3 linked regions of the Homo sapiens genome follow. The gene in region 2 interacts genetically with the main gene of each other region. Each region holds a gene or a part of one and is shown on either strand. Other genes may lie near its edges.

What was found.
Region 1: of FUS (region 2) and UPF2, extra expression of one rescues a mutant of the other (dosage rescue), as found in Homo sapiens cells (one study listed by BioGRID).
Region 3: of FUS (region 2) and UPF1, extra expression of one rescues a mutant of the other (dosage rescue), as found in Homo sapiens cells (one study listed by BioGRID).

Annotation. Positions count from the first base shown.
Region 1 is NC_000010.11:12,025,810-12,029,309, forward strand, and holds part of UPF2 (regulator of nonsense transcripts 2), read right to left. Parts: coding exon 2,936-3,500; intron 1-2,935. UniProt on the Homo sapiens protein: Involved in nonsense-mediated decay (NMD) of mRNAs containing premature stop codons by associating with the nuclear exon junction complex (EJC).
Region 2 is NC_000016.10:31,186,444-31,190,170, forward strand, and holds part of FUS (RNA-binding protein FUS), read left to right. Parts: intron 1-358; coding exon 359-393; intron 394-1,881; coding exon 1,882-1,914; intron 1,915-2,679; coding exon 2,680-2,783; intron 2,784-3,221; coding exon 3,222-3,351; intron 3,352-3,596; coding exon 3,597-3,698; intron 3,699-3,727. UniProt on the Homo sapiens protein: DNA/RNA-binding protein that plays a role in various cellular processes such as transcription regulation, RNA splicing, RNA transport, DNA repair and damage response. Binds to ssRNA containing the consensus sequence 5'-AGGUAA-3'.
Region 3 is NC_000019.10:18,834,912-18,838,638, reverse strand, and holds part of UPF1 (regulator of nonsense transcripts 1), read right to left. Parts: intron 1-3,727. UniProt on the Homo sapiens protein: RNA-dependent helicase required for nonsense-mediated decay (NMD) of aberrant mRNAs containing premature stop codons and modulates the expression level of normal mRNAs.

The sequences.
Region 1 (3,500 bases), on a different chromosome or scaffold from region 2:
TTCGAGACAGGGTCTCTCTCTGTCGCCCAGGCTAGAGTGCAGTGGTGCGATCATGGCTTACTGCAGTCTCGACTTTCCAGGCTCAACTGATCCTCCCACCTCAGCCCCCAAGTAGCTGAGACTACAAGCGCATGCCACCACACCCAGCTAATTTTTATATTTTTTGTAGCAATGGGGTTTCAGCATGTTGCCCAGGCTAGTCTCAAACTCCTGGGCTCAAGCGATCCTTCTGCCTCAGCCTCCCAAAGTGCTGACATTACAGGCGTGAGCCACCGCACCCTGCCAGTACTATTAATAATACACATGTAATCAATATCCAAAGCTTTCATAAAGCTAAAATAATATACAAAAAGCATCTAAATAAAGTTTAACAGAGATATGCAAGTACACATTTAGGCTTTAAAAATTGTATTTCACTAGTTTAAGGTGAAGAAGAAGTGGCTTGTCAGCAGTTCATATGAGAAATAAAGCTTCAGTGCAAATAAGTTTAACAAAAACCAAAAGAACAACAAGGTAGCTATAAAAACTAAGGCAATTTTAGGTCACAGATAGAAAAGAATGCATCCAAAACAAGTATCCTAAGAGTAGTGAAGTGTCTGGAAATCATGGAGCAAACTGAAAGAACTGGAGGTATTTAACATGGAGACGAGAAAAGGGAAACATCACGGCAGTCTGAATATCTGAGATACTGTCATGGGAATAAAAGTGGACACATATGTCCTCTACTGGTATTCCTCAAACCATCTGTGGTAAAGGGCCACCTTTCCTTCCCCAACCACTGGACACTTCTGTAAAAATATAGTAAGAATACCATGACCACTGAAAATTCCTATAAACTTTTTTTTTTTTTTTTTTTTTAGGACGAAGTCTCGCTCTTGTCCTCCAGGCTGGAGTGCAATGGCACAATCTCGGCTCACTGCAACCTCCACCTCCCAGGGTCAAGTGATTCTCCTGCCTCAGTCCCCCACAAGTAGCTGGGATTACCGGGGCCTGCCACCATGCCCGGCTAATTTTTGCATTTTTAGTAGAGACGGGGTTTCACCATGTTGGCCAGGCTGGTCTCAAACTCCTGACCTCAGATGATCCACCCACCTTGGCCTCCCAAAGTGCTGGGATTACAGGTGTGAGCCACCATTTCCAGCCTGAAAATTCCTATAATAATTTCTAAATGCTCACTCTCACTTTCTGTGTTTCATTAAATTGTGAACAGGTTACAAGTTCATAGATTTCCTACTTCAAGTACCTGTATTCCATCCATACCAGAAAAAAGAACCAAATCAAAGGGAATCATTTTGTGGGAAGTTAAATTTCCACCTGATGTAACAAAGAATTCCTAGCCCATAGTGTTTCCAACAGTGCAATGGCACCGAGAGAACTGAGCTCCTTTGGGAAGTATTCAGAGGAAAAATAATTTTATCTGTTAGATAATCTAAAAAATGTATTCCTACTTTGGAAAGGTGAATGGATTGGATTAAAACATCGTAGAATCTCTCCACTCTCCAAGATTCTGAGTCCAATCAAAAGCAAATACACACACATACACCCTCAAAGTAGCCAAGAACTAATCAATCATTAGCATACTATTAGCATACTCACAAATCAGTTATGATGTATTAGGTAGGATGTACGAGCAAAGGACTATGAAATTGACAAAGCATATGGAAATCATAATTAAGCCCTAAGTAAGTGAGAAGTATGAATAAAGCACCACCATAATCCTTTTTAGTCCATTACTGATGGTACAAGTACACTCTCAGGTTGCCTCTTCAAAGTTTAAACCAGTCCTCGCAAATCAAAACACAAAACAAGGATAAGCCTTTTCCTTTTTCCTAAAAGAACTATTGATAACACCTTTGCCGTCTTAAATTCTCACCTCTGAGTGACCTTCAGCCACAAAGATTTAACCACAGTCTCTACCTTGACCCTGCCCTAACTGTACTACTGGCATACACTACTCCTGTTCAATCTTCTGGTCAATCATCTTCTAGTGGTAACTACTTAAACCACTCCTCCCCTACCACAGACTTATGAAACTAGAAAAGGATCTCCTCCTATACAAATTTCTGATCAACAGTAATTTCAGATTCTCAACCATGCAATATAAATAGTTGTAGAAATATTAAAATAGTTTAATACTCAGCCACGTGCTATGGCTATTACCTCTTTGCTACACTCCCTCAGCCCCCCTCCAAATCCATCCTCCATAGAAATTGACCTAATGCCTAGCAACTCCATCAACTTCTAGCTTCTTGTTGCTCCTCAGGTACAAATACTACACAGTAGTCTACCATACCTTTTAACAACCAAAATTGGCCCCAAAGTCAGGTCTTTTCACCAATTACCACAGGCACAGTACATTCCTCCTTTAGAATTTTAAATGAATGCCCCCAGGAAGAAGACTCCTACAAATGAGTTTTGTAGTTGCATTTAAGAAATTTTTTCACAGCTAATTTTGTGCATTATTTCCCAAAACTCTAATCTGAAATACCACTGGTAATTAATGACTCATTTTCTTAAGAAGAGCAACAGTGACATAAAGAACTTAAAATACAAAACAATGAAAGCAAACCTGTTATAGAGAGAACGTTAAAGCACACAGAAAAATATTAGCAGGTAAGTTTAAGTGACAGAAAAGGAAATTTTACCCCTTGATTATTAAGGAGTATTTAAAATCACAGGAAGAATACACATCCACAAAGCAAAAATCACCATCTACTTGGCAGATTTTTTTAAAATCAGAAACAAAATCTATCGTAGACTCACATTAAAACATGAGTACTCAGACTGTTCTACTTTGAAATTTTCCTGGAATGTTAAGAAATCACCTGTAAGGAGCCCTTTTCCATAAGTTCTTTCAGTGGCATGAAGACTTTAAACATTTTTAAGTATGAGCTCCAAAATAAATTCTCAACTCTGAGAAACATTTGAAAATCACCTGTTTTGTCTCTCAGTATTCTGGAGCTCCCTGTGGTCCCTTTTCAGGTGTTTGGTCAAAGACGTAAAGTACTCTTTTAAAAGATTCTGGAAGGGCTGTTGTTTCTCTGGACTAATTATCTCACTAGGAGGAAAACTCAAATTAAACTTCTCTGCAGCACTCTTTACTTTCCTTGGTACAAGTCCAGCAATATCATCTCCACAATGTCGACAGAAACTAATCACTACAGAGACATGAGTGTGGGACTCCCGATCAGCATTAATAATATTTTTTAGCTGTTCATAGATTAAGGAAAGACCTTCCTTGTCAGTGAAAATCCCAACTATTGTCAATTCTGCAATAAAACGCAAATCAGTTCTTAACTTGGTGATGTTAGGTGTTTTCTCCTCTTTCCTTGCTTCAAAATGTTTTTTCCAGACCTGAAGAAGTGATGGGGCAAAGTCAGCATAACGCTGGTGAAAGAGAGAGCAGAGGTGCACAGCACAGTTCACATCAGAGATTTTTAGTTTTGCTTCCACGATGGAAGCTACAGCTTCTGCAATGTATTTGCTTAAATTTAGGCCAT
Region 2 (3,727 bases):
GTAGGGTTTTTAAACCAACTACTTGGTTGTCAACCACTTGCGACAAGAGGAAAAAAAAACATCTGCTCCATCGGAAGAACGACCAAGGAAAATGGGTTATTTTTTTTCCAGAGGAAATAGATAACGTAACCTTTTAAAGCAAAATCTTTATAAACTGTGTCTGAGAAATTGCACACGTGTGTGTGACATGCTCAAAGGTCAGACAAGGGGTGGTCAGGAAGGGATGTATTTTAGTAGCCACTTGTATCTTTTTCCAAAAACACCTACCCATGTTTGGGGAATGTTAAACAAAATCAAAAAACAACCTTTTGTAGCCGTTGGAAGCTTCATGTCCTTTCTTCTAACTTGTCTTCTCCAGCGGAAGTGACCGTGGTGGCTTCAATAAATTTGGTGGTAAGTGAACAGAGTTTCCAAAATTCCCAACTCCCAGCAATGCTTTGTCTGATTGTTCATTTGCAGATGTCTTAGCGTGTTAATTTAAATGTCAAAGGTTTTGAGGTGTCCAGAACCACCTCCAGAAAGGGGTAGGGTAGAATGCCACCTGTTGCCTGGTGTGTGCTAACCTGGAGCAGGTAGGGGTAAGACTCAATAGTCATCTTTTACCAAATGGGTTTGCCCCAGGTTAATAAGAGGGGTCTAGTAGGCCTTGGACTGGGCCGTTGCCACACCTGGCACTTAGTGACCATCATCATGAGAAACTGGAGAGTGCGTGCTGGAACACGTGGTGCCATCTTGGCTTTAGGATCCTTTTGATCGTTGTGTCCAAGGCTTGTGTGTGTGTGAGTGTGTGGGAGACAACTCCGAATGTTTAATTCTGGAAGAGGGATGTAACATTGCCCTGAGGATGGTGAAGTTGGTATACATTTATAAAGTACGGAATGGTGTCAATGAATGCAATTCTATGTATATGGACTTAACTGAGATGGGCAAATAGAAACTAGCTCTGGGAAGGAACATGTGCACTACTTCAAGAAAGATTGGAAGCATGTGTGGCTCATGGGAAATAACCAGGTCTTAAACAGCACAAACTGAATTCGTGGACCAGGAAGGTCTTAAACAGCACAAACTGAATTCATGGAAAAATGACAAATTTGAGAAGTCTCCCAGTAAGCTGGAACTTTTCTGGTTTGGTTAACAAAAGGTTTCTTGATTTGTTTCAAGATTTAAAGCCAAAGGTGTGGGTTCATGACTTAGGTGTCATTGCGTGTGGGTACAATATTTATATATGGCGAATTCAGATAAACATTGGTCAAAGATGGTCTCTGGAAAAACAAAATAGAGGCTGCATTACGGAAATAAGATTTCTGGTCTGTTCCCTGGGACATGCTTAAAAAATACAATAGCTATTATGTATGGTTTTTATTTTCATGTGGTTTCGGGGAAACAACACGGTTTTAAGGATGGTTTCTAAAGATGAAATTAAAAATTGTTCCACAAGGGTTAAGTGTCTGGTGGTAAAGTTGGGAGAAACTGGATGGATGCACATCGCATGGCTGGTGGCGAGCCCATCTCTCTTCTCTCGGGTGAGAGAACCGGGCCAAGCTGAGTTGGTTTGTTCACTTTAATGGGTCTCCGTTTCCCCTGCCACCTGTGCTGAGGACATTTCCCAGCCTGAGCTGGGGGAGGCAGCATTTGCTGAAGTGTGGAGTTGTCTCTGTGGAGACTCAAGTTACAGATCTTAAGGGGCCTGCCTAGAATTTTCTCCTCTGGGCAGGCGACCCAGGAAAGGGTTTGGAGTGAGGCTGTGAGCACTTACTTGATATTTTACAAGTTTGGATTTGGTGTTAATTTTTTTCCTTGTCCGTTTTTTCCTGTTGACTAACGGCTCATCTTTTCCTTGTTTTTGTTTTTTTTTTGTTCTTTTTTTCCATGTCACTAAAGGCCCTCGGGACCAAGGATCACGTCATGACTCCGGTGAGTTCACACGTGGTGGCATGAAAAGAGTGGCTAAAGTGGTATCAAGACTGCCTGGATGTTCTTTGAAACTATTATAAAAAGGAAACTGAAAAAAATGGGGATAGAGAAGGAAGGGAGTTAGGTGTGTCCTTAGTTAGCAGTGAGAAGTATTTGTTACGAAGTATTTCTCAGAAATACCTGGCTTGTGGGTTCCACCCCCAGTGATTTAGGTCTGAGAGGACCCTGAAAATCTACCTTTCTAACAAGTCCCCAGTGATGCTGATGCGTCTGGACCACACTCAGATGGTTTACAGCAGTGGTTCTTTCAAAATGTGGATCATGTCCAAGTTGGTGAACAAAACTAGTGAAAGACCTGACCACATGAAGTAAAGCATTGAACTCCTGTTTAGGTTGTATTGATGTTTGTGTACTAGATTTGAATGTAAAATGGGTTTCTTATTTAATTCGGGGACCTTCAACTGAAAGTTGATAAATACTGATGGACTTTTCTGTGTGGTCTTGTTGGGCATTTCACTCCTGAGCCCTGGTTTCCATACTGTATACTGGGTGTTAACATGTTTCAAAGGATAATTGTCAAACTGAATCTGAAATTTATCAGCATGGCTGGCATATAGGGACTCAAAAGGGATGTGGATTTCTTTTTAGTTGTCTTCCATAAACCAAATGATACCAGTTGCTTGATGGATACTAGGTGCTTTAGGTTTTTTCCTGTGTTTTTTATTTTACCTTTTCACATTTGCATTTTCTCTGTTCAACAAGCAGAACAGGATAATTCAGACAACAACACCATCTTTGTGCAAGGCCTGGGTGAGAATGTTACAATTGAGTCTGTGGCTGATTACTTCAAGCAGATTGGTATTATTAAGGTACTTGTGGAGAGGAGTGGGAGCTTTCTGTCAGTGTTGTAGGCTTGTGGATTTCACACATTAGTAAAAGCAAGTCTTTAATGGTTGCCAGCAGTAAAAACAAGTCTTAGTGGTTGTTGCCAGCTTAATTTGTTGAGGAAAGAGCCTTAGTTACTGTTTTCTAAAAGAGAAGTTCTATCTTAACACAAAAAGTATAACTTATCAGAGTACCCTAAACTCTTGAGATTTGTACTCTATAGTAACTTTTAGTTTTATCTTTCAATATTGGAGTGAGAGACAGTTTTCTTTAATGGAGGTTTACATGTGAGGTAGGAAGAAGTAACTGGGAAGAGGGGAGCTGAAGTTTGGGAATTATAAACCTCATGTTCTAGAGGAAGAAGATGGAAAGGGAGTACTGTAGCCTTTAAAATTGATGTTACCTCATTTTGCTTTCTTCAGACAAACAAGAAAACGGGACAGCCCATGATTAATTTGTACACAGACAGGGAAACTGGCAAGCTGAAGGGAGAGGCAACGGTCTCTTTTGATGACCCACCTTCAGCTAAAGCAGCTATTGACTGGTTTGATGGTATGTATGAGAAGGCTGGCAGAGGTGGGGCTGGGGATATAGGGCAGCAAGCCTTAGGAAACAAGCCATAGTTTGAGGGTTCTTTTGAGTCTTCCAACACTTACTTTAGCTGCGGTTTCAGGTAGTCTCATTTTTGCTTATGTGTCAGCAGATTATAAACCATTTGAGAAAGGCACGCTTCTCTTGTATTTTCGGATTAATGTGTCTTGCATTTAAAGTCTGTTGATGATTTTTTGTTTCTCTAGGTAAAGAATTCTCCGGAAATCCTATCAAGGTCTCATTTGCTACTCGCCGGGCAGACTTTAATCGGGGTGGTGGCAATGGTCGTGGAGGCCGAGGGCGAGGAGGTGAGGAGCTACCTGCTAGTGGTGCAGAG
Region 3 (3,727 bases), on a different chromosome or scaffold from region 2:
TTTGCTCTTGTTGCCCAGGCTGGAGTGCAATGGCACAATCTCAGCTCACCGCAACCTCCACCTCCCGGGTTCAAGCGATTCTCCTGCCTCAGCCTCCCAAGTAACTGGGATTACAGGCATGTGCCACTATACCCAGCTAATTTTGTATTTTTAGTAGAGACAGGATTTCTCCATGTTGGTCAAGCTGGTCTGGAACTCCTGACCTCCGGTGATTCACCTGCCTCTGCCTCTCAAAGTGCTGAGATTACAGGCGTGAGCCACCAAGCCCGGCCTGGATTTTCTTCTTTTTATTAAGACAAGGTCTCACTCTGTCACCCAGGCTGGAGTGCAGTGGTGCGATCATGGACATTTTGCCCAGGCTGGTCTCAAACTCCTGAGCTCAAATGATCTGCCTGCCTCAGCCTCCCAAAGTACTGGGATTACAGGCATGGGCCATCGTGCCCAGCTACATGTGCAGATTTTAAACTCACCACTTTTCGGAACCCAAGACTGTATGGAACTCACCCCGCCTTGGTCATAATCTCAGGGCTCAGCAGAAGATGGTGTGTTCACCTGGACAGTCAAGGATAGGTCAGGACAATGGCTTTGAAGACAAAGTAGCAACTTTCTATCCTGAGTATTTTACCACTTCAAAAGGAAAAGTGAGCCCAGGTTTACACACTCAGAGAAGTGGAGGCAATACAGAGAAGTCTGGCAGGAGGAGAGTGAGGGCTGGACGACAGGTCGGCTAGGAGCTTTAGCTAGTTGTCCCTTACGATCCAGAAAGACAGCATGTTTTTCCTAGGGAAACAACTCATGCACTCAGAGTAAAATCCCAGTACGAGATGACTATTCAGCTGTGACTCCCACAGGCTACCAGGAGTGGAGACGGAACAGGCAGTGCAGACCTGACCTGAGGATGAAGGAACAAAGTGGGACCAGTACCAAGCAGCATCTATCTACAAGGTCACCCAGAGCACCTGCACAAAAACATGCGTGTTGCTGCCTAAAAGGTCTGTACCTACCCACAGACCTCATACTTTCAGGTGAGCTAAGAAAAGCAACTCAAACCAATAGGCACACATTTTTCCCACTGGATGTACACACTGCTTTGTTTACCCATTCATCTGCTGATGGCCACTGGGGCTGCTTCCGGTTTGGGGTTCTCATGAAGAGATGCTGTCAGCATTTGGCGCAGCCCTGCGTACACACACCTTCATCTCTGCTAGGTCACAGGTAGGTGTATGGCATGAGAGTTCCAGGCAGCACTTTTGCCAGGCTCAATGGCTCACTCTGTAATTCCAACACTTGGGAGGCCTGAGGTGAGAGGATCTCTTGAGCCCAGGAGTTCAAGACCAGCCTGGGTAACATGGCAAAACCCCATCTCTACAAAAAAAGAAAAATCAGCCAGACGTGGTGGCACACACCTGTAGTCCCAGCTACTTGGGAGGCTGAGGTGGAAGGATCGCTTGAGCCCAGGAGGTCGAGGCTGCAGTGACCCATGATAACGCCACTGCACTACAGCCTGGGTGACAGAATGAGACTTTGCCTTAAAACAAAAACAAAAAACCCAAGTAGCACTTTCAGCCTTTTAAAAAAAGTATGGCAGGCTGGGCGCAGTGGCTCACGGCTGTAATCCCAGCACTTTAGGAGGTAGAGGAGGGCGGAACACGAGGTCAGGAGATCAAGACCATCCTGACTAACATGGTGAAACCCTGCCTCTATAAAAATACAAAAAATTAGCCGGGCATGGTAGCACACACCTGTAGTCCCAGCTACTCGAGAGGCTAGGGCAGGAGAATCGCTTGAACCCAGGAGGTGGAGGTTGCAGTGAGCCAAGATTGTGCCACTGCACTCCAGCCTAGGCAACAGAGCGAGACTCCGTCTCCAAAAAAAAAAAAAAAAAAAAATGGGTGGATAGTGGTATCTCCCTGACTTTTCTTTCCAGTTTCATTGAGGCATAACTGACATACCATAAGCTGCAAATGTTTAGTGTGCCATTTTAGAAACTGACATACATCAATGTACTTAAACACCCATAAAACTATCACTACAATCACGATAATAAAAACGTCCATTACCCCCAAGTTTCCTGTGCCCTTTGTCACCTGCCTCCCCTTTCCCACCTTTCTGTCCAGCCACCACTGGTCTGCTTTCTATTGCTGCAGGCTAGCTGGCAATTTCTAGAATTTTTTTATGAATTAAATCATATGATGAATGACACATACAAAAAAGTAATTATTATGAGACACATCCATGTTGTTGCAGGTATCAATAGTTTGTTCCTTCTTAATACTGAGCAGTATTTCCAACTCTTAAGAGTTTCACTCTAGTTCCCGTTTGGAGGATCCAGGGCAGAAGCTACAGTCAAGAGGAAATATTCCAACCAGGCAGACCAAAAGGCTTGTAACACCAGCTATTATGCAAAGGACTTCTGAAATTACCTTCACTGTCCTGGGAGCAGGAGAAGTGGCAGCAGAGAAGGGCCCAGGAAAAGGTCAGATGCTCGAAAACTGTCCCTGTATCTTAAGGACACTTGGCAATACTGTGTCAGCGCTTTTCATCCCAGGATCTCAAGGGCTTTGATAAATATCAGTTTCATTTCATAAACAAGAAAAGGAGTGTTATCTGAACCAGCTCTGAGTGCAGGGAGTCACCCCTGCTGCCACTTTCCCATCCCGGTGGGGACACACTGTCTTTCAACACACATTAAGGGAAAACCAACTGCGCAAAACCAGTTCAGGTAGGGTTGGTATGGAAAGTGGCTACACACTGGAAAACAGTCTTGCAGTTACTGAAACCATTAAACCCAAGGTTACTACGCGGCCCAGCAGGTCTATAAACACATCCACGCAGAAACCTGTACACTCATGGCCACAGCAGTGCTATTCACAAAAGCCAAGAGGTGGAAACAACCCAAATGTCCATCAACAGATGACGAGATAAACAAAACATGGTCCATCCATCTGGACCATTCCACCCATGGAATATTACTCAGCCTTAAAAAGGAATGAAATGCTGGCCAGGTGCGGTGGCTCATGCTTGTAATCCCAGCACTTTGGGAGGCCGAGGCAAGTGGACCACATGGTCAGGAAATCAAGACCATCTGGCCAACATGGTGAAACCCCGTCTCTACTAAAAATACAAAAATTAGCCGGGGCATGGTGGTGTGCACCTGTAATCCCAGCTACTGGGGAGGCTGAGGCAGGAGAATCGCTTGAACCTGGGAGGCACAGGTTGCAGTGAGCCAAGATCACGCCACTGCACCCCAGCCTGGGCAACAGAGCGAGACTCTGTCTCAAAAAAAAAAAAGGAATGAAATGATGACACATACCACAGCGTGGATGAACCTCGATCAGGTTCATTTTCCTGAATGCTCGGCCAGGGAACAGCTACGAAGCTCACCTTGTAGCTACTTCTCACACATCACGCAGAGTGAAAGGAGCCAGACACAAAACACCATATATGATATGATTCCGTTGATGTGAAATGCCCAGAACAGGCACATCTTGAGACAGAAAGCAGGTGAGTGGTTGCCAGGGGCTGTGGAGGTAGGACGGATGGGCTAAGGGGTGCAGGGTTTATCTCTGGGGTGACAAAAATGTTCTAAAGTTTACTGTGGTAATGGCTGCACAACTCTGAATATACTAAATAAAAGCCGCCGAACTGTACACTTTATATGGGTAAATTGTATGTTGTGGCAAGTGAATTCTATTTCAATAAAGCCGCTAAGCAAAAGTGACTGCAG